Homo sapiens: one gene and its partner. The protein of the gene in region 1 interacts with the protein of each later gene in a biochemical or structural test. Each region holds a gene or a part of one and is shown on either strand. Other genes may lie near its edges. The genes, in order: TRIM45 and UBE2B.

What was found.
Region 2: the proteins of TRIM45 (region 1) and UBE2B form a complex in vitro, tested with the Homo sapiens proteins (one study listed by BioGRID).

Annotation. Positions count from the first base shown.
Region 1 is NC_000001.11:117,111,523-117,115,344, reverse strand, and holds part of TRIM45 (E3 ubiquitin-protein ligase TRIM45), read left to right. Parts: intron 1-1,859; coding exon 1,860-1,986; intron 1,987-2,891; coding exon 2,892-3,040; 3' UTR 3,041-3,822. UniProt on the Homo sapiens protein: E3 ubiquitin-protein ligase that plays a role in the regulation of inflammatory response.
Region 2 is NC_000005.10:134,384,998-134,388,819, reverse strand, and holds part of UBE2B (ubiquitin-conjugating enzyme E2 B), read right to left. Parts: intron 496-3,822; coding exon 407-495; intron 1-406. UniProt on the Homo sapiens protein: E2 ubiquitin-conjugating enzyme that accepts ubiquitin from the ubiquitin-activating enzyme E1 and transfers it to a E3 ubiquitin-protein ligase. In vitro catalyzes 'Lys-11'-, as well as 'Lys-48'- and 'Lys-63'-linked polyubiquitination.

The DNA of each region.
Region 1 (3,822 bases):
ATCATTCTCCCAGTTGGTTTCTTAGGATTCTTAATATGGAGAAGATGTCTTGATCACAGGGGGTGATCTGCCAGCAGACAACCATGCATATTCAAAAAATATAATCTAGCTCAGGATTTTCCAGTTTTGTCCAGACTGTGTCTGGACATGAACACAGTTGAGAGGGTTATGCCCCCTCCTCACAATTGACTAGTCATCTATCTGCCTAACCATCTGCTCATGTAATTTTCTACTCTGTTTTACATATAGGTTTTTCTGTTACTATGGTTCCTATAAACAAACAAATATACCAAACAAGTTACGTTACCATGGTTTCTACAAACAAGTATAACACAAGTAGAGCACTTTCTGCTTTAGAGAGTATGAGTTTTTAAAAATTGGGTGATACTAACAGGTCGAGCAGAATCTCTCTGCTGACATTGGAGTAGTCAGAGGTTTCCCTCCACAGAAATCAACACTGACAGGGACAGTAAAATACCATATAGCATCATGATATATTAGGCTTATGATTTGTGCACTAAGGAACATTCATATTTAATAGCCATTTATTGTTTACCTAATTATGGTATGTCAGGAACAGGTTAGGTGTTTTTACATACATTATTTCAATTTGCCTCAAAACCCTTCAGGCACAGGGATCAGTGTCCAATTAGACTGAGACACCAAACTTGCATTAAAATACACAGCAAATGTAGCAAAATAGGAATTTGAACCCATTTCTTTGAATGCCAAGTTGTTTTTTAACTGGATTGTAAACTCTTTAAGATGGGAAATTTAACATCTGAAAGACTTCTAAGGTGCTAGGTTCTCTGTTTTGCGTTTTCGCAAACAATGTGGCTCTCACATAAGGATAGGCACATTGCAACTTATTAAATATTTAAATTGGGCATGATGGTGTGCACCTGTAGTCCCAGCTACTTGGGAGGATTGCCTGAGCCCAGGAGCTCAAGGCTGCAGTGAGCTATGGATGTGCCAGTGCACTCCCGCCTGGTGACAGAGTGAGATCCCATCTTTAAAAAAATAAATAAATATTTTTTGTTTAACATGGGATATAAATTAGAGAACGAAAGTTATCCTTAAAGGAAAGGGGGCAGATGGGAGAGTTACTAATTTGAGAATTATTAGCTGTACACATTTTAACCTTTCTCCCTTCCATATGTCTTTACAGTCCCAGAATAAGTGGGTGAGTAAACAGATAAGTCATGTCCAGGATGGAAGGAAAGAGGCTAGCTTGGTATGTGAGAAGAGGTACATGGCTGAGAAATTGGAGAAGGGACCACAGAATGTCCTATCTTTGTGGTTGTGACATTCTACTTATTATACCTGAGGTTCCTTAAGAATTGAGATTGAGAATCCCAGAGAAAAGTCAGTCTGAGATTACTAATGTATTGAATGATCTAGGTACTTATACTTCATACAAGGATAGAGTGAGGCAGAATCCATCAAGAAAAGCTTAAGCTTATTGTGGCATGGGCTTCTGCTTTTGCTGCCATCTTGCCAGAACAATTATTCCCAGCTAATACAGATGTCACTGAAAATGGAGCTGACTGTGTGACTCCTTTCAGTGTCCAGCAGGTTCAGCTACATGGAATAAATCAGTACCTACGTCTAGTACTTAGCATCTGCGGTGAAAAGCATGGTAGGAGGGCTGCATAGACCCTGTGATGCTTCCACTGCATCTGTGTCTGCCTCCTCTCAGCTGAGCAGGGTTCTTGTCCTCTAATCTGTTTCTTTCCTGTTGTCCTTGTCCATCCAAGGACAGGCCCTGTGCCTCAGACTCTGTTTAGCACATAGTGATGCGCAGCACATCCTGTTAACTCGTAAGATGCTGTTCATTGCTTTTGGTCTGAACACTGCAGGGCTCGCCATTCACTGTGATGGTGAGGAGAAAGCACCGCCCACACTCAGGCGTGTTTCACTGCTGCACCTTCTGCTCCAGCGGGGGCCAGAAAACCGCTCGCTGCGCCTGTGGAGGCACCATGCCAGGTAAGGAGAAAGCACTACCCTCTGGGCCTTTCTGCCAGCAGTGGGAATCAAGCGACGGGCCCTTCCCTACCACACAGCCACTAGACATTTGGACTTAGGCTCTGTTTCTAGGAAGCACAGTCTGTGATTGTAGAGACACCACTGTTCTAAAAGTGTCACTTAAAGCTTCCTTGTTCTGAATTGAAATAGCAGACTTAAAAGCTCTCAGTTCTGTTAGTTTTGGTACAGCTCCTATGAGCCCTGTGCTTCTATGTAGGATTCTCAGTTTGTCTGTCCCTTTCCAGCGGCCTAAGCAGTGTGAAAACTATGGACCCATCTTATTCCTTTTAGAACCTTAAATAAATTCCAAATGAGGCATGGCTAGGGGAGTGGATGATTAAACCAATTGAACAAGGTCTGGGTCTTTCGGGGGACAGAAAGGATAGGGAGTCAGTTTAGGTTAGGGATCTAATTACTTTAAAAAAAAATTATTGTGTCCTTACTCTAATAATGGGCCATAAAATGGGCTTTTGCATCCTTCTGTATAAACACTTGAGGATCTACCTCTATTTTTTTAATGTCCACCAACCTATCCTTTTTTATTTCAATGATTTTACAGTTAAAATCCAAACCAATTTATTTTACAGTTAATGTGCAAACTAGTTCGCCTCCTTCAGGTGGTAAGTTCTATCACTACAGCATTCTTAGAACTCCGGCTAACATGAGTTGATTTGCTGTGATCAATTCTCAGGGTCCTCCTGACTGCACAACAGTCAGACAGCTTGTTCCTCTTGCCAAGATTTTCTTAGATATTTTCACTCCCATGAATCTGCATGTTGCCAGGAGGTCTAATTTCCATGATAATGGTAACTGCTGGCCTCCACGCTAATGGTTGATTTTTGTCCTTTCCTCTTTGTCCCATGTAGGTGGGTACCTAGGCTGTGGCCATGGACACAAAGGCCACCCAGGTCATCCCCACTGGTCATGCTGTGGAAAATTTAATGAGAAATCTGAATGCACATGGACAGGTGGGCAGAGCGCACCGAGGAGTCTACTTAGGACTGTGGCTCTCTGATGGGTTTGTGCTCAGCCTTTTAAAGCTGCAGGCAGCACCACTTGAGATTTCCAGAGGACCCAGACCTTCGTTCATTCTAAAGAGACTGATAGAATTAAAAACAAAGTGCCTTATCTTGCACTGGAGTTCAAGTGCTCTTTTGTTAGTTATTCACTGATTGTACTTGTGGATGGTTGAGCACAAAAAACCACCTCTACATTTCTCTTAAAGGTAGGTTGGCAACGTTCTTTTTCTACCACAGGATACTCCTTTTCATTTTGTACAGTATGGAGGTATCTATTCCATTGGCACTGAAGGGTCTAGGTAGTTTAGTTCCTTTCTGATATAACCCTTTTTTTTTCTTTTTTTTTTTTTTTTAAAGACAGAGTCTCACTCTGTCACCCAGGCTGGAGTGCAGTGGCATGATCTCGGCTCACTGCAACCTCTGCCTCCCGGTTCAAATGATTCTCGTGCCTTGGTGTCCCGAGTAGCTGGGATTACAGGTTCCCCCCCACCTTCCCCCACACCCAGCTAATTTTTGTGTTTTTAGTAGAGACGGGGTTTCACCATGTTGGCCAGGCTGGTCTCAAACTCCTGACCTCGTGATCCACCTGCCTCGGCCTCCCAAAGTGCTGGGGTTACAAGCATGAGCCACCACACCTGGCCTATTATGACCTTTTTCATTTTTCTCTGAGCTACACATTATTTAGATATTTCCCCTAGAGATTAGAAACCTCCTTTCATCCTGTCCACTTTTTGTTAGCATACTTTCATTGGATTTACTGGTACATGTTTTGTGATCA
Region 2 (3,822 bases), on another chromosome or scaffold:
GATCTATTCTGAAATATTCTGCCAGACTGCTTCGACAAATGGTTACATTAGTTTTCCTTTCTTTTTTTAAAATAGAATTTCTTGGATGGGGTAACATACTCAATGCTTATCTACACTTGGCAGTTTCTTTAGGTTCCTATGGTTTTTCCAAGCCATTTTTTCTTTTCCACAACCCTTGGCTATGCTTCATGGACACAAATTAGGTTTGACCTGTGAGAACATGTAACTTACACAATCAGGAAAGGGACTGCAGACTGGATCCCAAGTAGGCACTACTGAAAGAGAAAAGTTAGCTGAAAAGCATGGATTCTTGTCCAAGCTCTGCCATTGGTTACCTGTGTGCTAAGGAGCTGACTATATCCTACAGAATACTGACAAATTATAATACATCCTAACACACACTTACCTGAATTGATGTTAAGATAGAAGATACATCATATGTTGGACTCCATCGATTCTGAAGGATATCTAAACATATGCTACCATCAGCATACACTGCAAAGACAATACTAAAATTAGTTACACACTCTGCCATATCTAACAGTTAAGAGAAATCTTTACCAAACAGAATGCTTGGCTTAGAAGTTTTAAATATTAGGTAATAACTAAATTCTTCTGTATCACAGGATAACCTGTCTTAAAACTAAGGTCTCTTATTTTGCACCTGCTATGGTTTGAATGTTCCCTCCAAATCTCATGTTGAAATGTAATTGCTGGAGGCTGGGCACGGTGGCTCACGCCAGTCCTGAACACTTTGGGAGGCCGAGGCAGGCAGGATTGCTTGAGGTCAGGAGTCTGAGACCAGTCGGGCCAACACAGTGAAACCCCATCTCTACTAAAATTATAAAAATTAGCCGGGCATGGTGGCACATGCCTGTAATCCCAGCTACTTGGAAGGCTGAGGCAGGAGAATCGCTTGAACCCAGGAGGCAGGGGTTGCAGTGAGCTGAGATCACACCACTGCACTCCAGCCTGGATGACAGGGTAAGAACCTGTCTCAAAAAAATAAAAGTAAAAAAATTAAATAAAAAAAAATTAATTGCCATTGTAACACTGTTGAGAAGTGGGACCTTTAAGAAGTGCTTAGGTCATGAGTGCTCAGGGCAGGAGTGTACTCCAGATAAAAGGATGAGTTTGGCACCTTTTCTTATGTCTTGTGTGCTCACTTGTCATTCTGCCTTCCACCATGGGATGTCACAGCACCAAGGACCTTGCTTAGGTGCTGGCGCCATGCTCTTGGACTGCCCAGTCTCCAGAACCATGAGCCAAACAAACTACTATTATTTACAAATTTACAAATTATCAGTCCCTGCTATTCTGTTGTAGCAGAAAATGAACTAAGACAGCATGTTATGATCAGGAGGCTTTGAGTTAAATTTCTTCAACACACATCATTTAGCAATCTATTTAAATTCCGTATTTCTAAATATTCTTAAAGCTTTTAAAAAACTGCTTATTTTTGACATAGCAATTACACTCCTAGAAATTAAGGAAATAAACGTGGACATGCACAAAGATTTACTTACAGGATGTTCACTATAATACTACTTATAAGAGTAGAAGGCCAGGCGCAGTGGCTCACACCCATAATCCCAGCACTTTGGGAGGCCGAGGCGGGTGGATCATGAGGTCATGAGTTCGAGACCAGCCTGGCCAGCATGGTGAAACCCTGTCTCTACTAAAAATACAAAAATTAGCCAGGCATGGTAGTGCATGCGTGTAGTCCCAGCTACTCAGGAGGCTGAGGCAGAAGAATTGCTTGAACCCAGGAGGCAGAGGTTGCAGTGAGCTCAGATCACGCCACTGCACTCCAGCCTGGGCGACAGAGCGAGACTCTATCTTAAAAAAAAAAAAAAAAAAGTGAAAAACTAATTCTACCTTGTGGTCCATAAAAGAGGGAACTGGCTAAATAAACAACTGATACATTCATATAAGCAATAGCAACACAATCACCAGAAATGATACATATCTACTGTTTATAGAGTAAGACATCCACAGACTATTACCTTAAAAATAAGTTTTTAATTATTTATAATTTCCTATTTTGATTAAAAAGTTTTATATAAATTCATTTAAAGTATATGTAGTCAAAAAACATTTCTAAGACCGAATGTCAAAATGTAAGTAGTGGATATTTGTAATAGTAGGGTTATGGATGATCTTATTTTCTTTTCCTTTTTTTTTTTTGAGATGGAGTTTCGCTCTTGTTGCCCAGGATGGAGTGCAATGGTGCAATCTCAACTCACTGCAAGCTCCGCCTCCCAGGTTCAAGGGATTCTGCTGCCTCAGCCTCCCACGTAGTTGGGATTACAGGTGCCCACCACCACGCCCAGCTAATTTTTGCATTTTTAGTAGAGACGGGGTTTTGCCATATGTTGGCCAGGCTGGTCTCGAACTCCTGACCTCAGGTGATCCACCTGCCTCGGCCTCCCAAAGTGCTGGGATTACAAGCATGAGCCACTGTGCCCGGCCCTTTTTTTTTTTCTTTTTTTGAGATGGATTCTCAGTCTGTTGTCCAGGCTGGAGTGCAGTGGTGAGAACTCGGCTCACTGCAACCTCCACCTCCTGGGTTCAAGCAATACTCCTGCCTCAGCCTCCCGAGTAGCTGGGATCACAGGCATGTACAACCACGACCCAGCTAATTTTTGTATTTTTAGTAGAGATGGGGTTTTACCATGTTGGCCAGGCTAGTCTCGAATTCCTGACCTCAGGTGATCTGCCCACCTCGGTCTCCCAAAGTGCTGGGATTACAGGTGTGAGCCACAGCGCCCCCAGCAGATGATCCTCTTTTCTTTTTCTTTTTTTTTGAGATGGAGTCTCGCTCTGTCACCCAGGCTGGAGTGCAGTGGCGTGATCTCGGCTCACTGCAACCTCCGCCTCCTGGGTTCAAGCAATTCTCCTGCCTCAGCCTCCCAAGTAGGTGGGATTACAGGCACACATCACCATGCTTGGATAATTTTTTATATTTTTAGTAAAGACGGGGTTTCACTATGCTGGCCAGGCTAGTCTCGAAGTCCTGACCTCGTGATCCACCTGCCTCAGCCTCCCAAAGTGCTGGGACTACAGGCGTGGGCCACCGTGCCTGGCCTATCTTATTTTCTTTATCCTTCCTTGTGTTTATGATTTATTTGTGCAATGAGTATACATATTCCTTTCATTAAAAAAAAAAATCAAGTGACTAACAGGTATCAAAAGTCCTGAACATCTGGGAGGGTTCTTCCCTTTTTAGACTGATTCTGTGAAAATACAAGCAATGAACGTTAAGTATTTGCCCAATTGTGAGACTATCTGTAGAAAAAATTTCTAGAAGTGAACTGCTATGTAAAACAAAGAGTAAATTCATTTAAATGTTACAGATACCATTTCATGGAGCAAACCATAACAGAGAGTGGGGAGCAAATCACACTTAAACACTGTGATTCTTCCAGACTCTATCCTAAGCCCTTTTCCTTCTTACCCTTTACACACACACTGGGCAATCCTATTGACTCCTGTGGCCTCAGTTACCATCCATGTGCTCAGTATTCCCAATCATTGGCCTTAGCCTAGATCTATCTCTCAGCTTCAAAGCCAACTTACTGTCCATCCCACAGAAACATCAAACTTAGCTGCCCAAAGCAAAAATTAGTAACTCTGTAAAACCCATAAAAGTGTAAAACAATTTTAAAGTTCTGAGTAACTATTTCTGAGAATCCAAAAGTAAATCAGAACTCAAATATCTTATCAACTAATGAACAAAATACAGAATATCCATACAGTGGAATATTATTCAACAATAAAAAATGAATCACAGATACTATTATATCACAACATAGATGAGCC